7 linked regions of the Homo sapiens genome follow. The protein of the gene in region 6 interacts with the protein of the main gene of each other region in a pairwise test. Each region holds a gene or a part of one and is shown on either strand. Other genes may lie near its edges. The genes, in order: TCP11L1, METTL27, MAGED1, C1orf94, KRTAP11-1, TBX6 and KRTAP6-2.

What was found.
Region 1: the proteins of TBX6 (region 6) and TCP11L1 interact in binary tests that used the Homo sapiens proteins (3 or more experiments, as listed by UniProt).
Region 2: the proteins of TBX6 (region 6) and METTL27 interact in binary tests that used the Homo sapiens proteins (3 or more experiments, as listed by UniProt).
Region 3: the proteins of TBX6 (region 6) and MAGED1 interact in binary tests that used the Homo sapiens proteins (3 or more experiments, as listed by UniProt).
Region 4: the proteins of TBX6 (region 6) and C1orf94 interact in binary tests that used the Homo sapiens proteins (3 or more experiments, as listed by UniProt).
Region 5: the proteins of TBX6 (region 6) and KRTAP11-1 interact in binary tests that used the Homo sapiens proteins (3 or more experiments, as listed by UniProt).
Region 7: the proteins of TBX6 (region 6) and KRTAP6-2 interact in binary tests that used the Homo sapiens proteins (3 or more experiments, as listed by UniProt).

Annotation. Positions count from the first base shown.
Region 1 is NC_000011.10:33,042,572-33,046,071, reverse strand, and holds part of TCP11L1 (T-complex protein 11-like protein 1), read right to left. Parts: intron 2,323-3,500; 5' UTR 2,299-2,322; coding exon 2,136-2,298; intron 1-2,135.
Region 2 is NC_000007.14:73,836,804-73,839,516, reverse strand, and holds part of METTL27 (methyltransferase-like protein 27), read left to right. Parts: intron 1-479; exon of another isoform or gene 480-657; intron 658-2,713.
Region 3 is NC_000023.11:51,896,623-51,899,738, reverse strand, and holds part of MAGED1 (melanoma-associated antigen D1), read right to left. Parts: coding exon 2,662-3,116; intron 2,532-2,661; coding exon 2,468-2,531; intron 2,193-2,467; coding exon 2,113-2,192; intron 1,945-2,112; coding exon 1,853-1,944; intron 1,626-1,852; coding exon 1,546-1,625; intron 1,455-1,545; coding exon 1,412-1,454; intron 1,159-1,411; coding exon 1,096-1,158; intron 1-1,095. UniProt on the Homo sapiens protein: Involved in the apoptotic response after nerve growth factor (NGF) binding in neuronal cells. Inhibits cell cycle progression, and facilitates NGFR-mediated apoptosis. May act as a regulator of the function of DLX family members.
Region 4 is NC_000001.11:34,200,907-34,204,406, reverse strand, and holds part of C1orf94 (uncharacterized protein C1orf94), read right to left. Parts: coding exon 3,375-3,500; intron 2,324-3,374; coding exon 2,148-2,323; intron 1-2,147.
Region 5 is NC_000021.9:30,880,144-30,882,974, forward strand, and holds KRTAP11-1 (keratin-associated protein 11-1), read right to left. Parts: upstream 1,438-2,831; 5' UTR 1,382-1,437; coding exon 890-1,381; 3' UTR 501-889; downstream 1-500. UniProt on the Homo sapiens protein: In the hair cortex, hair keratin intermediate filaments are embedded in an interfilamentous matrix, consisting of hair keratin-associated proteins (KRTAP), which are essential for the formation of a rigid and resistant hair shaft through their extensive disulfide bond cross-linking with abundant cysteine residues of hair keratins.
Region 6 is NC_000016.10:30,089,125-30,093,352, forward strand, and holds the start of TBX6 (T-box transcription factor TBX6), read right to left. Parts: upstream 2,801-4,228; 5' UTR 2,749-2,800; intron 2,411-2,748; exon of another isoform or gene 2,118-2,410; 5' UTR 2,070-2,117; coding exon 1,952-2,069; intron 1,869-1,951; coding exon 1,634-1,868; intron 87-1,633; coding exon 1-86. Other genes in the region: YPEL3 (protein yippee-like 3), read right to left, coding at 3,586-3,675. UniProt on the Homo sapiens protein: T-box transcription factor that plays an essential role in the determination of the fate of axial stem cells: neural vs mesodermal. Acts in part by down-regulating, a specific enhancer (N1) of SOX2, to inhibit neural development.
Region 7 is NC_000021.9:30,598,090-30,600,113, reverse strand, and holds KRTAP6-2 (keratin-associated protein 6-2), read left to right. Parts: upstream 1-1,211; 5' UTR 1,212-1,239; coding exon 1,240-1,428; 3' UTR 1,429-1,524; downstream 1,525-2,024. UniProt on the Homo sapiens protein: In the hair cortex, hair keratin intermediate filaments are embedded in an interfilamentous matrix, consisting of hair keratin-associated proteins (KRTAP), which are essential for the formation of a rigid and resistant hair shaft through their extensive disulfide bond cross-linking with abundant cysteine residues of hair keratins.

The sequences.
Region 1 (3,500 bases), on a different chromosome or scaffold from region 6:
TCCAGGGCTCAGGGCGTGGCCTCTGGAATGTGTCTAGACTTGCTGGCTCCTTGCTTCTAGCACTCCTAGGCTCATAGATCTATTGTATCTTAAACTAGAACATGTTTCCCATTATCTCAAGTAGCAGAACATGTTCCATATGCTGCAAAGAAAATGCTAAACCGTCACAGCTGTAGATCATGTGCTTGATACACTGCTTTCTTTCAACCCCCACATCCTCACCACCTGCTTCTTTGTTTCATCACCAATGAATAGTGCAGGCTTCCAGAGCTCGGGGCCTTCGCAGCCTCCATACTAGCATTGGCCCCCGGACCCACTTTATGCACTCTTAAACTTGTCTTTTTCATTCTTTTGACTCCACTGGACTTCGTCACCTCCACGTTGGGTCTGGCCATCCCAACAACCAACCAACCAATAAAGGGTGACTGAAGACCTAAACCAAAAGTTCTTCTTTAGCAGAAACTATAGGTTGTAAAGCTATCATGTTAGCCATATACATCTACATTACAGCAATCAATCCTGGCCTCTTTATTTTTTTTATTTTTATTTTTTTGAGAGAGGCTTGTCTCACTCTGTCATCCAGGCTGGAGTGCGGTGACACAATCACGGCTCACTGCAGCCTTGACTTCCCCAGCTCAAGTGATCCTCCTGTCCCCGCCTCCCAAGTAGCTGGGACTACAACCACGTGCATGCTCAGCTAATTTTTTTTTTTTTTTTTTGAGACAGGGTCTTACTTTGTCACCCAGACGGGAGTGCAGTGGCGTGATCTCGGCTCACTGCAGCCTCCACCTCCCAGGCTCAAGTGATCCTCCTGCCTTAGCCCCACAAGTAGCTGGGACTATAGGCATGCACCACCATGCCTGGCTAATTTTTATTTTTTGTAGAGATGGGGTCTCATTATGTTGCCTAGGCTGGTCTTGAACTCCTGGACTCAAGTGATCTTCCTGCCTCAGCCGCCCAAAGTGCTGGTATTACAGGTATGAGCCACCATGCCTGGCCAATCCTGGCATCTTTAAATGCAATAGATGACATAATGTTAGTAGCAATAGTAGTAACAACAACTAATGTTTATTAAGCATTTATTACCTGTGAAGCACTGTTCTAAGTGCCTTATAGGAATTCATTTAATCTTTACTGCTACCCCAAGAAATATTGTATTTTCCTCATTTTAAAGACAGGAAAACAGAAGCTTTCTAACTACACATATTGGAGTCAGGCCTGACAAATGCATGATAGACTGTGCTAGCAACAACATGTTTCCTTGGACACAATTTGACCTAATAGTTGATTTATTAAAATCTATGTGATAATAAATCAGAATAAAATAGGGTCCATTAATGTTTGCTAGAAGAATAGTATGTTGACTAATAAATTGCCCGGGAAGGGCTTTGATCATTTTAGAAGAAACACACCCCAAAACCCAAAAATGTCTGTACTTTTTCCAAATACGTACAACTACTGATCATCTACAATTTAAAGGGATAACATCAATACCGACATTCTTAGACTATGACATTCCCTCTTAAAAACTTGCATTTTTGGACTCACTTCAAAATGCTTAAGGTACTCTTCATAAAAGACGTGAGTTGAGGCAACCACTGGGAATGCCTGAAGATATTGCCACCCTTTCATTTAAGAGGCTTGCTCCTTGCCAGGGATCTGAAATGACTTCACCACACACATTTAGCAAACTGAATCCCCTCAAGCTTGTGGGAACTAAGCCCCCAGGCAGAGAATTAGGGTGTGGTGAACTTACTCACATTTTTTTTTAACCTGCACAAGCACAGTCCTGGCTGGAATTAGCCTCAGACTTTTCAAACACTCTTTCAATACAAGCTGCAATTTATACTCCACCCTCCTATTTCTCAGAGCACTTCAGAGACTGGAGTGTCACTGAGGCTGGAGAAAGACAGGAACGTTCTGGACATTATTCTAAATTGTTAATTTCCCATGCAATTGAAAATCCACAAGTAGCTAGGCTGCCAGCTGAGGAACTGCTATTATTCCTAAATGCTACATTGGCAATGTTATATTATTAGAACCTAGCTCACGGCCACATGCACAAGGAGGCCTCATAAAACCGTCACCTGAAAACAATGACAATATTGCATCTAACCAAAGTCAAATTTGCTTACAGTGAGGTCTCTGCACTCTTTGGGGGCTGGAGGAGTCTGACTTTATTGCTTTTTGTAAGGCTTCATCAGCACCTTCCACAGCATCTTCGAGGCCTTCCTCAGAATCATTGGATTTTGATTTTCCTGCTTCATTTACATTGGACTTGTCAAGGTTTTCAGACATTCTCAATTAAGTTTATTCACTTTCCTAGGAAAGAAAAAAACAAAAAAAAAGAACTAAAAGTATTCTAGCTCTGTCACCAACTAGCAATGTGACTCAGGGCAAATCATTTAACCTCTTTGGGTTTCAGTTTTCTCGTTTGTAGAATAAATGAGCTTGCTAAGATCTTATCCAGCTATATTCTACTTCAATGACTAAACAGATACTTGTAAAATGACATTTGTAATTTATCAGATTTCTGGATCTCACGTAGTAGTTAGTTGGAATATTTTTGTCCTACTCCTAAGTAGCATGTTTCAAGAATACAGGGCCTTAAACTATTAGAAGACACACTCTAAACTACCTGCTGCTACAATTTTAATCAGTGATTCAATCTTAAATTCTTTACTTTCATTCCTAAGAGCAGATAGGTAAACTCCTTGGAAATAATGCTTTTAATTGGGCTTACAAGTGAATACACTGGGCTAAAGGGTTGATTCCTTGATATTATCATGTGAATAAGATACCCAGAGATGACAGAAACTAGAATTTTTTTTTTTTCCAGATGGAGTTTTGCTCTTGTTGCCCAGGCTGGAGTGCAATGGGGCAATCTCAGCTAACTGCATCCTCCGCCTGCTAGGTTTCAGCAATTCTCCTGCCTCAGCCTCCCAAGTAGCTGAAATTACAGGTGGGTGCCACCACGCCCAGCTAATTTTTGTTTTGTTTTGTTTTGAGACAGAGTTTCGCTCTTTCATCCAGGCTGGAATGCAGTGGTGCGATCTCAGTTTACTGCAACTTCCACCTTCCGGTTTCAAGTGATTCTCCTGCCTCAGCCTTCTGAGTAGCTGGGATTATAGGCGCCCACCACCATGCCTGGCTGATTTTTGTATTTTTAGGAGAGATGGGGCTTCACCATGTTGGCCAGGCTGGTTTCGAACTCCTGACCTCATGATCCACCTGCCCTGGCCTCCCAAAGTGCTGGGATTACAGGCGTGAGCCACTGCGCCTGGCCTAATTTTGTATTTTTAGTAGAGACGGGGTTTCACCATGTTGGTCAGGCTGGTCTCGAACTCCTGACCTCAGGTGATCCACCTGCCTCGGTCTCCCAAAGTACTGGGATTACAGCCATGAGCCACTGCGCCCTACAGAAAACAGAATCTTATGAAATGTTTAAGAGGAATGTGTGGGGCAAATATTTTTATTACCTTCTTGCCAGTAATTAGGAA
Region 2 (2,713 bases), on a different chromosome or scaffold from region 6:
TGTAAACTTTGCACATTGCGCTGCCCGGGCAGGTGTGTTTCCCGTCTCCTGCTGTGTTCTTGCTCAGCGCTTTGTTCTGCTCTGGGCAGAGGGCTCAGACCCTGCCCTCTGGGCCTTGATCTCCAACCCACTGGGGCCCAGGAAGGGGCCAGAGAGCACAGGGCCTGGTCAGAGGTGGCCCCACGAGAGCCGTGAGTGCTCACTGCTCCCAGAATTTATTTATTTATTTAATTTGAGACAGAGTCTTGCTCTGTCACCAAGGCTGGAGTACAGTGGCACAATCTCAGTTCACTGCAACCTTCACCTCCCAGGTTCAAGAGATTCTCCTGCCTCAGGCTCCCAAGTAGCTGGGATTACAGGAGCCCACCACCACACCCAGCTAATTTTTGTATTTTTAATAGAGATGGGGTTTCATCATGTTGGCCAGGCTGGTCTTGAACTCCTGACCTCAAGTGATCGCCCGCCTTGGCCTCTCACAGTGCTGGGATTATAGGCATGAGCCACTGTGCCTGGTCCTGCTCCATGAATGTAGAGAAGAGAGGCATTTCCAAGACCAGGTGAGGAATCCACATGGGGTGCACCCTAAGGCAGAAAGGAGAGGGGCTGAGCATGAGAACGAGGAGGCGCTGGCTGGCTGCAGGACAGGAAATCATAGAGGTAAAAATGCTTCCTCTCCCTCCCGTCTCTGCCAGGCCCAGCAGAGGCTGTGGCTAAGCCTGGGCAGGTCTGGGCAGGCATCTGGGGAGCCCTGAAGGCTGACAAATGCAGGGACACGGATGGGGTCAGCTGGAAAGGTCGAAGTTGGGCCCAAGAAGACAGGAACTTTCTACTGGGTGAAGCAGCCAGGATCGGACTTCCTAGCCCAACCTGTGCTTGCTAAGCCCTTCAGCCCCATCAGGCTGCCCATGGGTGACAGTCTCCCCTGCTCCGGAGCCTCTCCTCTCACTGCGCTCCCTTCTATCAGCAACACCCTGCTTCTCCTTACCCCCTCCTCCAGGAAACCTTCCCAGACCAGTCACTTGGGCTTCCCCATCTCTCCTTCTCAGTGCACTTGGGGCCACCCTGGGCACGCACACTATAGGTGCCTGGACCTGAGGTGACAAGGCCATTCAGCCGGCACTTACTGTAGGGCACTTCAAACACACATACCAGCCTTCCTGTGATGTTAGATAATCATCCTCTCTGTGCCAGCTGGGAAACTGAGGCCCAGAGAGGTGAAGGGATAGCCCAAGATCCAAAGCCCACATGGGAACTTTCTTCCTGTCCATTCAGACACAGTCACATCCTCCAGCAGAGGCGTGGGTGAGTGGTGAGTGGTGAGGAGGGTGTCTCCTCAATCCAGGAGAATTACGTCAAGAATTCCCCACCAGGCACAGTAGCTCACCCCCATAATCCCAGCACTTTGGGAAACCGAGGCAGGAGGATCCCTTGAGCCCAGGAGTTCAAGAGCAGCCTGGACAACATAGCAAGACCCCATCTCTACAAAAAAAAAATGTTTAATTAGCCAGGCGTGGTGGTGAGCACCTGTGGTCCCAGCTACTCAGGAGGCTGAGGTGGGAGGATTGCTTGAGCTCGTGAGTTGGAGGCTACAGTCAGCTATGATTGCTCTGCTGCACTCCAGCCTAGGAAATAGGGTGAGATCCTATCTCAAGAAAGAAAAAAAAGGGGGGGTGGGCAGGCACAGTGGCTCACGCTTATAATCCCCAGCGGGCAGATCACCTGAGGTCAAAAGTTCGAGACCAGCCTGGCCAACATGGCAAAACCCCATCTCTACAAAAAATACAAAATAGCCGGGCGTGGTGGCACGTGCCTGTAATCCCAGCTGCAAGGGAGGCTGAGACAGGAGAATCACTTGAACCCAGGAGGCGGAGGCTGAAGTGAGCCAAGAGCATGCCATTGCACTCCAGCCTGGGTGACAGAGCAAGACAGGGTCTCAAAAAAAAAGAAAGAAAGAAAAAGGAATTCCCAATGTAAAAGACACAGAAAGACTGCCCTGGGAAGGAAGCTGGAAGAATTTCTTTTTCTTTTTTTTTTTTTTTTTTATTGGAACATTAATTAGGTTTTATTTTCACTTTTTGTTTCCACAGTAACATGTATGGGATTAGGTTACAGTGTTTATTTGTCCCCAATCTTTTATTTATTTATTTATTTATTTATTTATTTATTTATTTTTAATTGATTGACTTTTTATTTTTTTTTATTTTTTTTAAATTTATTTATTTATTTATTTATTTTTTATTGATAATTCTTGGGTGTTTCTCACAGAGGGGGATTTGGCAGGGTCATAGGACAATAGTGGAGGGAAGGTCAGCAGCTAAACAAGTGAACAAAGGTCTCTGGTTTTCCTAGGCAGAGGACCCTGCGGCCTTCCGCAGTGTTTGTGTCCCTGGGTACTTGAGATTAGGGAGTGGTGATGACTCTTAACGAGCATGCTGCCTTCAAGCATCTGTTTAACAAAGCACATCTTGCACTGCCCTTAATCCATTCAACCCTGAGTGGACACAGCACATGTTTCAGAGAGCACAGGGTTGGGGGTAAGGTCATAGATCAACAGGATCCCAAGGCAGAAGAATTTTTCTTAGTACAGAACAAAATGAAAAGTCTCCCATGTCTACTTCTTTCTACACAGACACGGCAACCATCCGATTTCTCAATCTTTTCCCCACCTTTCCTGCCTTTCTATTCCACAAAGCCGCCATTGTCATCCTGGCTC
Region 3 (3,116 bases), on a different chromosome or scaffold from region 6:
CGGGTGTGGTGGCTCACACCTGTAATCCCAGCACTTTGGGAGGCAGAGGTGGGTGGATTGCTTCAGGTCAGGAGTTTGAGACCAGCCTGGCCAACGTGGTGAAGCCCCATCTCTACTAAAAATACAAAAACAGCCGGGCACGGTGGCACGCACCTGAAGTTCCAGTTACTCGGGAGGCTGAGGCACAAGAATTGCTTGAACCTGGGAGGTGGAAGTTCAAGCGAGCCAAGATTGCACCACTGCACTCCAGCATGGGCAACAGAGTGAGACTCAGTCTCGAAAAAAACAAACAAAAGAATTCGCCCGGTACGGTCGCTCACGCCTGTAATCTCAGCACTTCTGGAGGCCAAGGCAGGCAGATCACCTGAAGTCGGGAGTTTGAGACCAGCCTAACATGGAGAAACACCGTCTCTACTAAGAAGACAAAATTAGGTGGGCGTGGTGGCACATGCCTGTAATCCCAGCTACTCAAGAGGCTGAGGCAGGAGAATAGCTTGAACCCAGGAGGCAGAGGTTGCGGTGAGCCGAGATCACGCCATTGCACTCCAGCCTGGGCAACAAGAGCGAAACTCCGTCTCAAAAAATAAAAAAATAAAAAATAAAGAATTTAACCATGAGGAGTATATGCAATAAATACTCCTGAGGACATAAGTGTTTCTGTATGCACAGAAACACATATGCACAAGTATAGTGTAAGAAACGAGCTTGAGAAGGGCTTTCTTTTATTTTTTTTGAGACAGGGTCTCACTCTGTTGCCCAGGTTGGAGTGCAGTGGCATGATCACAGCTCACTGCAGCCTCAACTTCCTGGGCTCAGATGATTCTCCCCTACCTCAGCCTCCCAAGTAGCTGGGACTACAGGTGCATGTCACCACGCCTGGCTAATTTTTGTATTTTTTTGTAGAGATGGGGTTTCGTTATGTTGCCCAGGCTGGTCTTGAACTCCTGGGCTCAAGCGATCTGCCCACCTGAGCCTCCCAAAGTACTGGGATTACAGGCATGAGCCATTGTATCCAGCCAGGAAGGGCTTTCTAAAGCTGACCAGCACACAGGCAGAATCATAAGAAGCAGGAAAAGCCCCTTAGGCATCACTTACTTCTGCTTTACAAACTCATAGGTGAGAAGTTTCCTTAGATCTCCAAGGAGGGGATGTCTCACCCTGAAGGTAAAAAAAGGAAACCCACAATCAGAGGCTATTACCATGCCCAAAGAGCTTTCCAGAACAGAGGTCAGAGATGAGAAAAGAGGCAGAGAGTTCAGAACTGTTTCCCCATCCACCCAGGTCACATCTTTGGGCTCTGAACATCCCCAAACCAAACCCTCCAGACCCCCAGGTTAATGCAATCCTGGGACCATCCACTGTTGCCAAAGGATGGCACAAACAGGCAAGAGATGAGAGAGCCCAATCATACCCAGGACGCAGTCCCATCTTGCGTAGTGCCTCCCAGAGGACAGCTGCAATGGGAGGCAAGGGGAGACAAGGGACGGAAAATAAGCATGGAAATCAGGCTGTGGCCAACCCCCAGCTGCAGGTCCAGCCACTCACCCTCACTGGCACGGTTGCCATTCATGAAGATGACACCCAGAATCACCAAGAGGAGACCGAGCTTGGGTGTGTCTTTGGTCCTAAGGGAATATAGAAAGAATATATTTTCAGTAGCCATTTGCATGAGAGACCCCAACCAGCTTGCCCATCTAGCCTCCCCAATATTCCTCAGCTAGGGGAGAATTATACCCCAGCTCTGCCCATGACCTGCTATGTGACCCTGAACCCTGGACCCTGATCTACGTGAAACTCCTAGAAAAAAAGCACCACTGAGAAAGGCCATGTTCCACCTTCTTTCCCATCTTACGTTCCCAGTATGCCAGCCAGGGACTCGGGGGTACTGATGAGAATATACAGGTGTTCTTCTTTGTCAATTTCTTTCAGTTGAATCCCAAATTTCTACAGGGGCAAGAAAACAGACTATGAAATTACAACATCTAGCATAAGCTACCCATAGGCAGACACTCATCTCCCTGAGACTTGCCCTAAACTCCCAGTAGGAACCCCATGAATCTTTGAAATCAAGACTTTCCCCATTATTCCTGTACCCCAGGGCTGCCTTCTCACCTTCTCTAGGACAAAGCATGCACGTTCAATGATTTCTGGATAAACATCAGTGTATTCACGGATGATATCTCTCAGCATTTCTGTAGGAGAGAGGAGGGAGCCATCTGAGCCGAGCGGGGGCCACAGAGCAGCAGTCCCTTTGCCAGCCCTGCTGGGGGTAGCACAGTCAAGGTCCTCAAGGGTGGAAAGAGCCAACCATGGAAAGGAGGGGATAGAAGGGGAAGGGTCATACAAGCAGAAGAATGCCGACAGAGCATGGAGTGAAGGGAAGGGCAGAGCTACAAGCAGAAGAATGCTGACAGAGCATGGAGTGAAGGGAAGGGCAGAGCTTGGGGAGGGGACACTGGATGCATACCTGAGCGCTTGATGGGCACCTTTGTGTAGTCCTTAAGCATCAAGTACTTGACCAACTTATTTGCCTGGGAGGGAAAAAGGAAATCATTAAACTTATAAAATATTTACAAAAAAACTTGGTTGAATTACAGATGAGAGGATGACAAAGAAAAGAGCAAGAGAGGGGAAAAGTGACTGGGGAGTTACAGCTCTTACTCTTTCCTGAAGAAGGGCCACATCTCGGGGCTGTGCAGCACCTGGGTTCTGTGAGGCACGCGAGTTGGGAGAAGGGCGCAGGTTAGGCGAGGGGCGCAGGTTCTGCCAGTCAGGTGGAATTGGCCAATCAGCGGGGATCCAGTCAGGTGGTAGTGGCCAGTCAGTGGGAAGTGGCCAATCAGGTGGCAGTGGCCAGTCGGGTGGTAGCGGCCAGTCAGGAGGACCTTGCCAGTCTGGAGGACCCTGCCAGCCCGGTGGGGTCTGCCATCCAGGTGGAGTCTGCCATCCAGGTGGATTCTGCCAGGCCAGTGGATTCGGCCAGACAACAGGGCCGGGCCAGACAATGGGGTTTGGCCAGATCACTGGGTTCTGCCAGATTACTGGGTTTGGCCAAATCACTGGGTTCTGCCAAGCGACTGGGTTCTGCCAGGCTGGTGGGGTCTGCCTAGCTGGAG
Region 4 (3,500 bases), on a different chromosome or scaffold from region 6:
CTCCACAATGGGGTGTGAGCTTTCCCTCCCTCGGGAGGGGACGGGTACTTGTTCTCTTTAGCAAACACACACACAAACAAAAAGCTTGAAAACAAAACAGAGAGAGACTTTGCTAAGTTCCTTTAAGATTCAGAAACTAAGCCTGGTGGACCAGCTTGAAGAGTCTTTATATGCAGAAGAGCCAATCCCCTTTCCCAATAGGACATAAGGTTTGTGCTGTGTTGAAAGGGAAAGAATGACATAGGGTTCCTAGGAGTGGAGAGCGGGGAAGGGACATAGCAACAGGACAAGCCGAGTTGGAAGTATTTCCTTCTTTGCTTTCTCACTTCAGGCTGTGCTGGGCCAGGCTGGGGCAGCAAATTGCCAAGGTCCTGAGTGCACAAATTTGAGTTCCTGCCCTTCCCCATACAATGACATACAATTCTGGAGAGAAGCCAGTGCGAGGAACAGAAGACAGAAATCTTAGGCATGGAGAATCTTTCCTGAAAAAATTGAGTTCTACCTAAAGGGACTATTTAAGTTATTGGATTGGGCTAAGGCTTAAACCAGAGTGGACATTTATTTAATTTTTCCCTCCTTCTACCCAGTGGGCGGCAGCTCTTAAGGGATATTAAGTTAAATCGACAAAATAAAGAAACTACATTTTCCCTGCATAAATAAGTTCTGTGAGTAGAATTTCCAGCCCTGCTACAGGTGCTTCACTGTCCCTTTGTGTCTGGCCATTGATTTTCTCCTTTAGCTATGATCCCAAGAACAAGAATGTGTGCCAAGCCACCTTGGTTGGTACAAAGCTAAGACTGCTTGGTGTAGTTTAAGTAAGGTGGCCATATACACTCATTCCACGGTATCCTCAGAGGATTGGTTCCAAGACCACCCTCCCTCCCCTGCCCTGTGGATACCAAAATCTGAGGATGCTCAAGTCCCTGATATAAAATGACATACAAAGATGCTCAAGTCTCTGATATAAAATGGCATTTGAGGGCCGGGTGCGGTGGCTCACCCCTGTACTCCCAGCTCTTTGGGAGGTGGAAGCAGGTGGATCACATGAGGCGGGGAGTTCAAGACCAGCCTGGCCAACATGGTGAAACCCAGTCTCTACTAAAAATACAAAAATTAGCGCACATACCAGTAATCCCAGCTACTTGGGAGGCTGAGGTAGGAGAATCGCTTCAACCTGGGATGCAGAGGTTGCAGTGAGCCAAGGTCATGCCACTGCACTCCAGCCTGGGCGATAGAGTGAGACTCTGTCTCAAATAAAATAAAATGGCATATGAGGATGATCTAGTCCCTGATATACAATGACATATAAAGATGTTCAAGTGCCTGATATAAAATGGCATATGAGGATGCTCAAGTCCCTAATATAAAATGGCATAGTATTTGCATGTAGCTTATGCGCATGCTCCTGTATCCTTTAATCTCTAGATTACTAACAACGCCTAATAATGTACTATGTAAATAGTTATTATACTGTATTATCTTTTACTCGCATTATTTTTTGTTGTTGTATTTTGTTGTTGTTGTTGTTGTTTTCTTCTTCAAGTAGTTTCCATCCAAGATTGGTTGAATCTGTGGATTTGGAACCCATGGATACAGAGGGCTGACTGTAATTTGTTGTCCAAACCAGGACACTTGAGAGTGAAAAGGGATGCCATTCATATTATTCTGGAACAGAAGACCTAAATTGGGACTGTCCCAAATAATCTGGGATATATGTCATCCAACTTCAAAGGAAGTCACAGGAGAGAGGTGGGAAACAAGGACTGTGACATCATCTTCTCCTGGGAGCCCAAGCACTTAACCAGCCACAACTAGCAAAGAGACTCTGCAATAAAGAGCACAGTGTGAACTGGAATTCGGACAATGGAAAGTTAGGACTAAATATACATATGTGTGTGTGTGTGGAGGTGTGCGCACGCATGCACATGAACCAAGGGGTAGATCTGATGTGACTACAATGAAAAAAATAACCAACAAGCTGACAAGTTGACAGCGCCCTTCCATAGCCCCAGCGAAGCCTCTTGCATGTAGGGAAGGGATTCAGAGGAGTCTAAAGACTCTGTGAAATAGACCCCCTGCCAGCCACTCCTTCTCTGTGGCCAAAACCCCCGTGGATGTCCACAGGAGAGCCAGGCCAGCTCACTGACCTGATACTGCAAGAAGGTAGAGTGATTCGTGAACACTGGTGGAGGTGGATAGTTCAGGTTGAGCCAGAGTGGCTGGTTCAGGGTTGCTGAGGTCATGGCTGTAGGAAAGTGTGGAGTGAAAACATTCCCTGTGTACTTCGGGTTGTTCTTGTCAGCAACCGTCACAGGTGCGTTAACTGCAAGTCACAGGAGAGGCAAAGCGGGTCAGTGATGGAGGCAGGGAGAGGCCAGGACACCTTCAGCATCGCAACTTCCTTAGGGATTCACAGTCTCACAGGTCAGGTCCTTTAAGCTCCAAGAGGGTTCTTCAAAGTTCTAGTACATTTCCAACTATAGGTAAACATCATTAGTTCACACCTTGCCAGTTTGGAAGGGATGAAAATCCCAGAAGGTCTGGCTTGGAGCTTTTCTTTCCATCATTCACTAGTAAAGAAGGCAATTTAGCAAGGGAATACAATAAGCCAGATTGCTAGGCCTATATTTCACCTACTTACAAAATGAAATTCTTTCAACTGCTTTGGAAAAATCCAACTTTATGTGAACCATTGCTATGCCATTGGAATTCATCCTTATCAAATGATTAAAGCAGCCCCTCCCTAAGGACATATATTTGGCAACACTAAGAAACTTTCACAGGTTGTTGTATCTATATGGGAATTTTAAAAATTATATTTTAAAACATTAAATAATTCAGCATGCAGTGACTCAAAATTGGTCTAAACAAATGAAGTTAGGTTGAGTTGTTTCAAGATCAGAATCCTGGATTCTTCCTTTCTACAAGATGTTGTGGGGGCTTATAAAATCAGAAATGGGTCCTCAGTTTCCCCTTATTGGCATCCTTTTGGGAAAAGAGGTTTGACTAGAACCCTTGTAGGAAAAGAAAGCGGGAACATAATCTCAATATAGAAATAATCTAAAGCAAGGATCTTTTGTTTTGGCTTGGGCAATTTGAGAGGATATAATACATGCTGGGTCAGGGCTATATTCAGAAGTGACCATTAATAATGCTGACGTGACCCTTGAAAGCCAACTACACTTCTCTAGCAACTGTATTCCCAACAAGGGATATGGGGAGAAAGTCATTGCCCCCATTTTATGGGTTTAAAAACTGACACCTCTAGAAAGGCAGTAGATAAGACAGCCACTTGGTGACAGAGCCACCCTGAAGCCTGTGAGGGTCACTGCAACCCCCTCCCCTCCAATCCCTCCCTGGGTAGGTCAGCTCACATTTCAGCTCCGGCCCATCCACTTCCACTTTGTTTCGAAGTCTCGGCTGCCCGCTTGGGTTCTTGGTGGCCCCAAGGAACTCATAGAGCAAGTTCTTCTCGGCTGGACATGTAGGTTTCTTGGGCG
Region 5 (2,831 bases), on a different chromosome or scaffold from region 6:
AAAAAGAAAAAGAAAGAAAGAAAAGAAAAGAAAAATCATAGCCCTTACTTCACCGCACAGCTGAAGACTCTCTCTGAACAAGTAAAATATAAGATAATCCTTGGTTTGGTCACAGGGCATAATGATTAAGCCCATATTCTAGGCTCAGGAAAAAAAAAATCAGACCCTGATCAGCAAAGACTCTTGCAAACAAGGAGCTCTGTTGAGAAAACTAAATACCACCTGTTCTCACTAATAAGTAGGAGCTAAACATTAGGTACACGTGGACATAAAGATAAAAACAATAGACACTGGCAACTGGAAGAGCGGGGAGTGAGGAAGAGGAAAAGGGTTGGAAAACTACCTATTGGGTACTATGTTCAATACCTGACAGATGGGTTCAATCATACCCCAAACCTCAGCATCACACAGTATACCCCTGTAGCAAACCTGCACATGTACCCCGCAAAAACTAAATTAAAAGTTGAAATGTTTAAAAAAGAATTCTGCTGAGACATACATTTGCAATGCCAACTAATGCAGGTTTATTGAGAAATACATGGTGAGACAAGCTCTGTTTTTGTGAGACACAAAAGCAGAGGCCAGGAGATACAGCAGCAAGGTGAAAACATGTCAAAAGCATCAGAGACTGGGGTGTGGATGGTAAAGCTTCTGGACACATCCAGAGGCATACACAGCACCAGTGAGCAACCCTTAAAACAAGCTTAGGGCTGGCCAGAAAAATTTTAGAGTGCTAAAGACAGCGTGTGCATGGATAGTAGCCAGCAGTCAGGCGGTCACAAGAAGGGTCAGCTATGAAGAGCTATTCAGGGACAAGCAGCATGCTGGAAGATCCTGGAAACAGCTGGCAGGTCGTGGAGTCTTGATTCGCTCACTGGCTCCTACACACTTAGCAGGTTCTTCGGCAGCTGGACACGCAGGACTGCTGATACGTCCTGGAGACCCCACAGGCTGGCTGGCAGACAGTAGAGACTCCTCCCACTGGTTGGCAGACAGTAGAGATGCCGCCCACTGGTTGGCAGACACTGGAGATGCCTCCCAGGGGCTGACATCCACTAGAGACAAAGGTGAGCGGCCGGCTGTAGGTAGTTGAGCAGGGGTTGGAAATACAGGTAGTTTGTCGAGAGCAAGTCACCTGGCAAGGGTTGGAGACACATGAAGTTCGCCGGTAACAGGTTGGCTGGCAAGCAGTGGGCTCACAGCAGGTCTCTTGACAGTGGTCCAGGAGCCAAGAGCCAGTCTGGAAGGAACTGGGCAAACAGATGCCGCCCAGGCAGTCAGCATCAGTGGTGGAAGTCGTGGTAACTTGGGCCACTGGAACAATGCAGCGTCCTCCAATGGGCCTGGAAGAGCAATTTCTTGTGGAGCAGTTGAAGGACATGATGTCAGACAGAGGGCTGCAGGTAGCTTGCTGAAGTTACCTCCTGAGTTGTGAATGTCACTCCAGACTCCTGAGCTTTTATATATCCTTGCTGGTGGGTGGGGCTCTCTCCCTGGTCTCCGTGGCTTCTTTGGCTCAGACCAGTTTGCCTTAGAACATCTTGTGAATCTACACATTAATTGTCTCTTAAGAAGCCTTCACCCTCATAAAGAAAGTTTAGTAGTTTGGTAACTAAATCACAAGTCTTCTGTACTGTACTTAGTCTGATTAAGAAGGCTGGTTGGCAGCTTCAAAGCTATTGGTCATCCCAGCCCACACGTTGTCCCTCATTCATCTTGCTTATGATGAGTGTTGACCTGACACTCATCCTACCAAAGATGCCACCATCCTACCATCACACACTCTCTCCCTCCCTACCAGGACCAATTACAAGCCCATGCCCTGTTTCATTTGTCACTGGACTTAATATCTTTTAAACATAACTTAATCAGTCACTCTACCACACCTAACGGAGCTCCTCATTGGGAAGGTGCCTCCTTGAATATGTTTCAAGACAACAGTGACAACACTTGACAGGAACAAAGGGCACAGAGACTTGTATCCAAAGTCTGAGCTGGCTCTCAAAATTAATCAACTGACTCAAACAAGATGCCCGTGGGAAGGCTAGAGGGCAGTGGGACCCACCCTTTATGTTCAACCAACAAAGCAAATTAGAAGCTAACTAAGTGCAACTGTATTTGTAGCCAAGACCTTTTCTAAGTAAATTGGATGAGCTTTATTCCTAAAATGTTTAATTTAATAACAGTGGATAATAGTGACTCCTGGGTCTCATTAATATGCCAGTGGAAAAGGCTTAGTTAATTTTTAAAATTATCATAATGTTAATTTGAAAGGGTACAGTGTCTTTCTCCCAATTTGTTCAATATGTTCAAAAGATATTTATTTTCACACATATAGATAGAATGCATTTTAATTATGGACAAACTAAAGGCTCTTCAAGGTCATTGTCTCCATCAGGGATAAGGGGGAGGCAGAGCTGGGGGAAGCAGGCACTTAATCAATGTTTGGTAATGAAGAGATGTGTGAAGAGTGTGCTATATTTAATTATTCTTTTTATGCTTGGGGAAGCTATAGGGATATCACTCTATTTTATTTCATCTCACTACAATATAATGAATTTTAAACACCAGAATGATGGCTCGTTTGGGTCCACCTGAACATAGATGAATAAACTGCCTCAACTCTGGCAAAATAAGCAACTTCAACATCGCTTCAAGTGGTCAGTGGTATTTCTGTCCCAAAACAGCTGTAGCATCTGACTCATTTTTAAACTAGCTTACATGAGGGAGCGTAAGGGAATAAAATGGATTTCCATGTATTTGAGGGCTACAGGTAAGCTATGTTTTAAATATCCACAAAGCAAACAGCGTTATGTCAGGACTCATCAGAA
Region 6 (4,228 bases):
CCACCGGAATCACATCCAGAAGAAACAAGTAGCGGGCCTCGGGGTCCAGGCCAGTGACTGACACTCGGCAGGCAGGGAACATGCGCCTGTGCAAGGGAGGGGACAGGAGAGGCCTGGAGCTACCCACTGGCCAGGGGTGGGCCCAGCACCAGTAACGGGACATAACAACGGGCTCCCCAGAGCTGTCAGAGAAACATCAAAGGAGGTGGAATTAGAACCCAGAGGGCAGGCTGGAGGCTGTGGCTCACACCTCTAATCCCTATACTTTGGGAGGCCAAGGTGGGAGGATCTCTTGAGTCAGGAATTCAAGACCAGCCTGGGCAACATAGAAAGACCCCATCTCTACAAAAAAATTAAAAAATTAGCCAGGCATGGTGGTGCACACTGATAGTCCCAGTTACTACAGAGGCTGAGGCGGGAGGGTCACTTGAGCCTGGGAAGTCAAGACTACAGTGAGCCACAATTGCACCACTGCACTCCAGCCTGGGCAACAGGGCAAGACACTGTCTCTGAAAAATGAAAAAGGGCCAGGCGCAGTGGCTCATGCCTGTAATCTCAGCACTTTAGGAAGCCGAGGTGGAAGGATCATGAGGTCAGAAGTTTGAGACCAGCCTGGCCAATATGGTGAAACACCGTCTCTACTAAAACTACAAAAATTAGCCGGGTGTGGTGGTGTGTGCCTATAGTCCCAGCTACTCGGGAGGCTGAGGCAGGAGAATCGCTTGAATCCAGGAAGCAGAGGTTGCGGTGAGCTGACGAGATCGTGCCACTACACTCTAGCCTGGGCAACAGAGCGAGACTCCATCTCAAAAAAAAAAAAAAAAAAAAAAAGAAGCCAGAGGGCGGAATCTTAGAGCTGGAAGGTTTTCTTGTCTCATTTTACATTTGGGGAAACAGGACAGACGGGTTAAGTGATCTGTCACACAGCAGGTTAGGAACAGAGCCATGACTCCTACCCCTCAAAGCCTATTTGCAGAAGCAGGGGTGACTAACTTTCTTGCTAGGAGCTTCCTGTCCCCACCCTCCTCTCCTCCCCTGATCTCCAGCACCAGAATCTGCAGCTCTTAGATGAATTTGCTTTAGAAAAAATATACCCTGCCTGCAGTAGGGCCGAGGACTTTCCATGCTAGGGCTTGAGTTCCTGCCCCAGCTAAAGACCTCATCTAAGGTCAAACACTGACCGTGTCCCTGCCTCTAGGGTGACCCTGGACCTAGTCATATACTGACTCCTATTCGAGTTGCATACTGATCCCGAATCCTGGCCAGATTTCCCTGATGCTGGTCAATGGGCTGGCCCTTGACCCCCTGTCCTTGTCTGGATGCTGGTCTAAGCCACACACTAACCTATAACCCAGAGGGACTTCCTGACCCTGCCCCAGACTGACCCATGACCCTTGCCATAGATTGGTCCCTAAACTCAGCCACAGACTCCACAGACTGGCCCTTAACCCTTGTCACAGAGTGACTCCTGATTCCTGCCACAGAGTAACCCTTGCCCCAGGCCATAGTCAGATTCTAGGCCTAGGCAGAGCTCTAGCCCCTCGGGAACCACCCAGTCCTAGCCCCCTCCCCAGGGACTCTGCCTTTCCCAAGAGACCCCCACCAGAAACACGGACCCTGGCCAGCCCCTCACCTCCCAGCTTTGGTGATGATCATTTCTGTTCCCACAGAGCTGAACTCCTTCCATAGCTCCCGGTTCTCCAGGCTCAGGCTGACCCCCGGGAGGGAATGGAGGGCCTCTGGAGCTGATGGGGCCGGCTCAGTGCCCATGGCAGGGGGCAGAAGGGGCAGAGGTGGGTGCGCGGCCAGGGTGCGGGGAGCAGCCTCCATCCCGGAGAGGAAGCAATCCAGTTTAGGGGTGTCCAGTTCTGGAAGCCGGGGAAGAATGAGGAGCCAGCCGAGGGCCACAGCCCCCCTATTCTCCTACCCAGGAGCTGGTCCCAACGCTCACCGGGGTAGCGGTAGCCCTCCGCTAGGGCGGGTGGGAAGCTGGAGTCGGCCCCAGGTTGGGCGGGCCCCAGGCGGTAGCCGGCCCCCAGGGACGGGTACAATTCTCGTGGATGGTACATGTTGTAGTTCCGTCTGGCCTCAGGTCTCGCTGCTTAGGGCCCCCGGTGCTGCGAGATGCCCCCTTTATAGCTCACAGCTCAGCCCCTTCCAGATCCAGGATCACAGCCCCTCCCCTCTTTGGGGCCCTGGAGTTGGGCTGGGGTGGAGACCCCTGGGGCCTCGAAGGGGTCCGAGAGGGGGTCGGATACCTGGGTACGGTCCCCTCCTCCCCTCCCTCCCCACCCCGGGAGGCTTCATTAGCCTCGACCCCCTGCCCCCTCATTACATAATTAACTCCTCGGCTTGATTGATCCCCAGGGCTCGGACAGGGACGCAGTTTGGCGCTTCCGGCCAGCTGGTCCCCGTTCCCACGGTGGGGAGCCCCGGCTAGGGATAAGCTGGGGGGCGGGGCCTGGAACCTGGACGGAGCCAAGAGTCCCGGGACACACCTTGGCGCCCCAGACCTTCTGGCAGGTGACCGCCCTCCGCCCCCCTTCACTTGGAGGCCGGGCCCTGGAGGGAAGCAGCGTGAACAGAGGGAAAGTGCAGGCTAGAGGGACGCGGCCTGAGCTGATTTCACAGGGCACTCGGGGCCGCGAGGAGGCCGCAGCCCAGTCCCGAGCACCGTAGTCCTCCCTGGTCCCCATGCTAAAAAAACCTCCATCCCGAGCCAAGCCTCCAAAGTTCGAAGGCGCTCACAGTCCGACAGCTTCTGACGCCTCGCGCCAGGGTTTCCCGAAGGTCCCGCGCTGGGGAACCCTCGGAACTACACTTCCCGGCAGGCTCAGCGCTGAGGCGCGCCCGAAGGAGCCGGACGGACCACGCGGGGGCCGCTGGGAGTTGCAGTCCGACCGCGAGGGGGCTGCGAGGCCGGCGGCGCGGTTGCCTCCCTGGGACGCTGCCCCTAGGCGGCGGCCAAACGCTGCAGATGAGCAGACGCAGATCAGCCGAGGTCACGGCGTAGGCAGCCAGAGTGGGCTCAGGACCTCCGCCAGCAGTGAAACCGTCCCGGTTCCCGGAGACCCAGCTTGGACGGCTGTGCCTACCCCATGCCCCGCCGGGGCTCAGAACCGCACAGGTCTATAGGGGCGGAAATCTCCGCTTGAGCTCCCCCTTCCCGGATTACACGCGAGCCTGAGCTGTCTCCACTCCATTGTTTTATTATGTACAAACGCTACAGAACGAGGGGGACAGACACGCGTGGGGTAAGAAGGGCCTGGTGGGAGGAGTTCACAGAGCAGACGGTGCACTGGGACCAGGAGAGCAGAACACAGGCCATAACTATAGGGCAGGTGGGGCAGGAACGGGTTAAAAACGAGATCCAAGCCAGCCAGATCGCAGGAGGTGCGGGGGCGTCGTCCCCCTTCTGTTCTCCCCCCAAGGTCACAGTGCATGCAATAAAATATATATACAGGAGCTAGATCCGTCCTCTGCAGGGGCTCTGAGGGTCCAGAGCTCCCTTCGGGTGGCGGGAAGCCAGTGGCGCTCCCTGGCGGCCAGGCCGGGCTGGAGCCACATGCGTCGGGGGAGCGGGGGTCAGTCCCAGCCGTTGTCTTTGATCATGTGGTTGAGTTCAATGATGTACTTCCCCTCTTTGTACTTCTGGCTGCTCTCAAAGGCCTGTTCCTGAAAGGAGGGGCGGGACCGTCATCCCCGGAGCAACAGTCTCACCACAAGGCACTGGGGTTGGGAAGTGGACATGAGTGGCCCCATTTTACATATGAGGAAACTGTGGCCCAGAGGGGCAGGGCCGTATTTCTCACAAACACAGAGTAGAATAGAACTCCCTGACTCAAAGGTACTTTTTTAAGTACTAATGATGGCTCCAACAGAGAAGATAGGGAAGTGGCTAAAAGATTTCACAGTTCAGGGTTTGCAAACTGGTAGCTTCATGGCCATTTTGGCCTACAACATGTATTATGTTTGGACAGCAGACAGTTTAATAAAAATAACTTTAAAGTATTAAAATATAAGTAGGCCTTGCTCACTCCAGTTTGCCCAGCCTGCCCCCAACTCCCAACCCTGCCAATCTATGCTACCCTTTACACATCTACAGTATCTGCTTGGCCTTGCAGGCACTTGAGGTTTTTTTGTTTGTTTGGTTTTGAGAGGGAGTCTTGCTCTGTCGCCCAGGCTGGAAGTGCAACGGCGCGATATCGGCTCACTGCAACCTCCGCTT
Region 7 (2,024 bases), on a different chromosome or scaffold from region 6:
AAAGATTTATTGGCATCATGACTCCCTGAGATGGCACAAGACAAGAGTTACATCTCTTCCCAAATGTATAACCTCAATCTACATATGAGGAAACCTTAGACAGATTCAATTGGGGAATATTCCACAAAATATCTGGCTCTCTAAAATTGTAAGGTCATAAAAGCCAAGAAAAGACGAATGAACCATGAGCAATTGGAGGTGACTAAGAAGTATAAAAACCAAATGCAATGTGAATTGGATCCAAGAACAGAAAAAAAGAACATTAAAATAAATATGTGAATAGTGCTACAATGAACCATGGTCCTAGAACTTAAAATAAAATAAGTTAATAATAACAGAAAAATGGTAAAATAAAGTCTGCAGTTTAGTTAAGAATACTGTACACAGTTAATTTCTTTGGTGTGATAAGTGGATTATGGTTATGAAAGATATTAATATTAGGGATGTTGAATGATGGATATATGGAAATTTTCTATACTATTTTGACAACTATCTCTATGCCTGAGATTATTTTAAGATAAGAAGTTAAAAGAGAATATAAAACTATTGTTCCATTTCATTGACTTGGTCACTTATTAATTCTTTTATAAATCAAGAAAATAACTTACATTTTCTTGTTCTTCCGTAGAGGTTGAACATAAAGGAAAATTAGACTCACTGGTATAAGTAGAAAAATACAACAAATTTTTCTCAGATCTGGTTTTCTAGAATTTTTAATTAGTTGAATTATTATCAACATCATGGCTTTAGTATAGAAAAGACACTAAATCCCTGAAAAAAGTATTATTTGGATAAAGAGAGCAGAAATACTAAAAGGGCAAAGTTATTGTTTGCTGAATGTTGTGCAAAAGAGTACAATTAATTGGGGCCTAGAGCAAATAAGAGTGTAACTAACAAAAGTCTTTCTTGATGTAAAGGATGGCTATAGAAAGTCTAGTTTGAGGCAGGATTATATGAGTGTGAGTGTGTGAGGTCTCCTTTCATCAGAGCCCTCAATCAGATAAGGGGAGCCCAAATTGCAAGGCCAAACAAAACAAGCCTCCTTAATACCTCTGCAGCATTATCTTACAATTGAGAAAAAACAAACTAATTATATTAGTCAAAAAATTAGCCAGTGGTATGCTACCTCTGCTGGATCATTCCCATCCTGAGGCATATAAAAGGACTTCTACAGGAAGTATCCATACTGAAGTCACCTACACTCCTTCCTACCCAAGGACAACCTCCACAACCATCACGATGTGCGGCAGCTACTACGGAAACTACTACGGCGACCATGGCTATGGGTGCTGTGGATACGAAGGCCTAGGCTATGGCTATGGAAGCCTGCGCTGTGGCTATAGCTCCTGCTGTGGCTATGGTCATGGCTACGGCTCCCGCTTCTTCTGTGGCTGTGGCTATGGATGCGGCTCTGGCTACTACTATTGAGGACACCGTGGGAGACTCATCCTCTATCCTGTGACATCGGGATTCACCAATTCTGAACCCCGTATGCTCTGAGCTCGGGGCTGGATGAAGATTATCTTATATTAAAAGTTTCTGATGTGATTTATCTGAAGACTGACCCTCCCACCCCCAGTACCCTCTGGATCTAGTATTTTCAACTTCCTTTTCTGCATTTAATGCATGAAAATTAAAATAATGTAAAATTCATCCTATGAACTCCTGTGGTCTCTCATCAAGATGATGCTGTTATAGATCTTGCTTTTTGATTTTCATGCAGGAACTTATTTTCTGTTTTCCTAATACACTTTTTCAATCTGGAATTACCATCCTGATTTTCTTTTCATTAGTATCCAGTATTTATCTTTTTAGCTTTCTTCCCAATTTATGTTAACCTAACAATGTCTCAACGTAACCCATGTTATCACTGCTTCAATAGAATAGAAAACCGAGCATGAACAGAGCAGAAAACCGTGCATCATTTATGGGTTGATTATTTGCGTATGAAAATCATTTACTGTCAAACTTGTTCTATGTAGTTCATATCACAACTCTACATAAATAATTTATAATCTAAATAA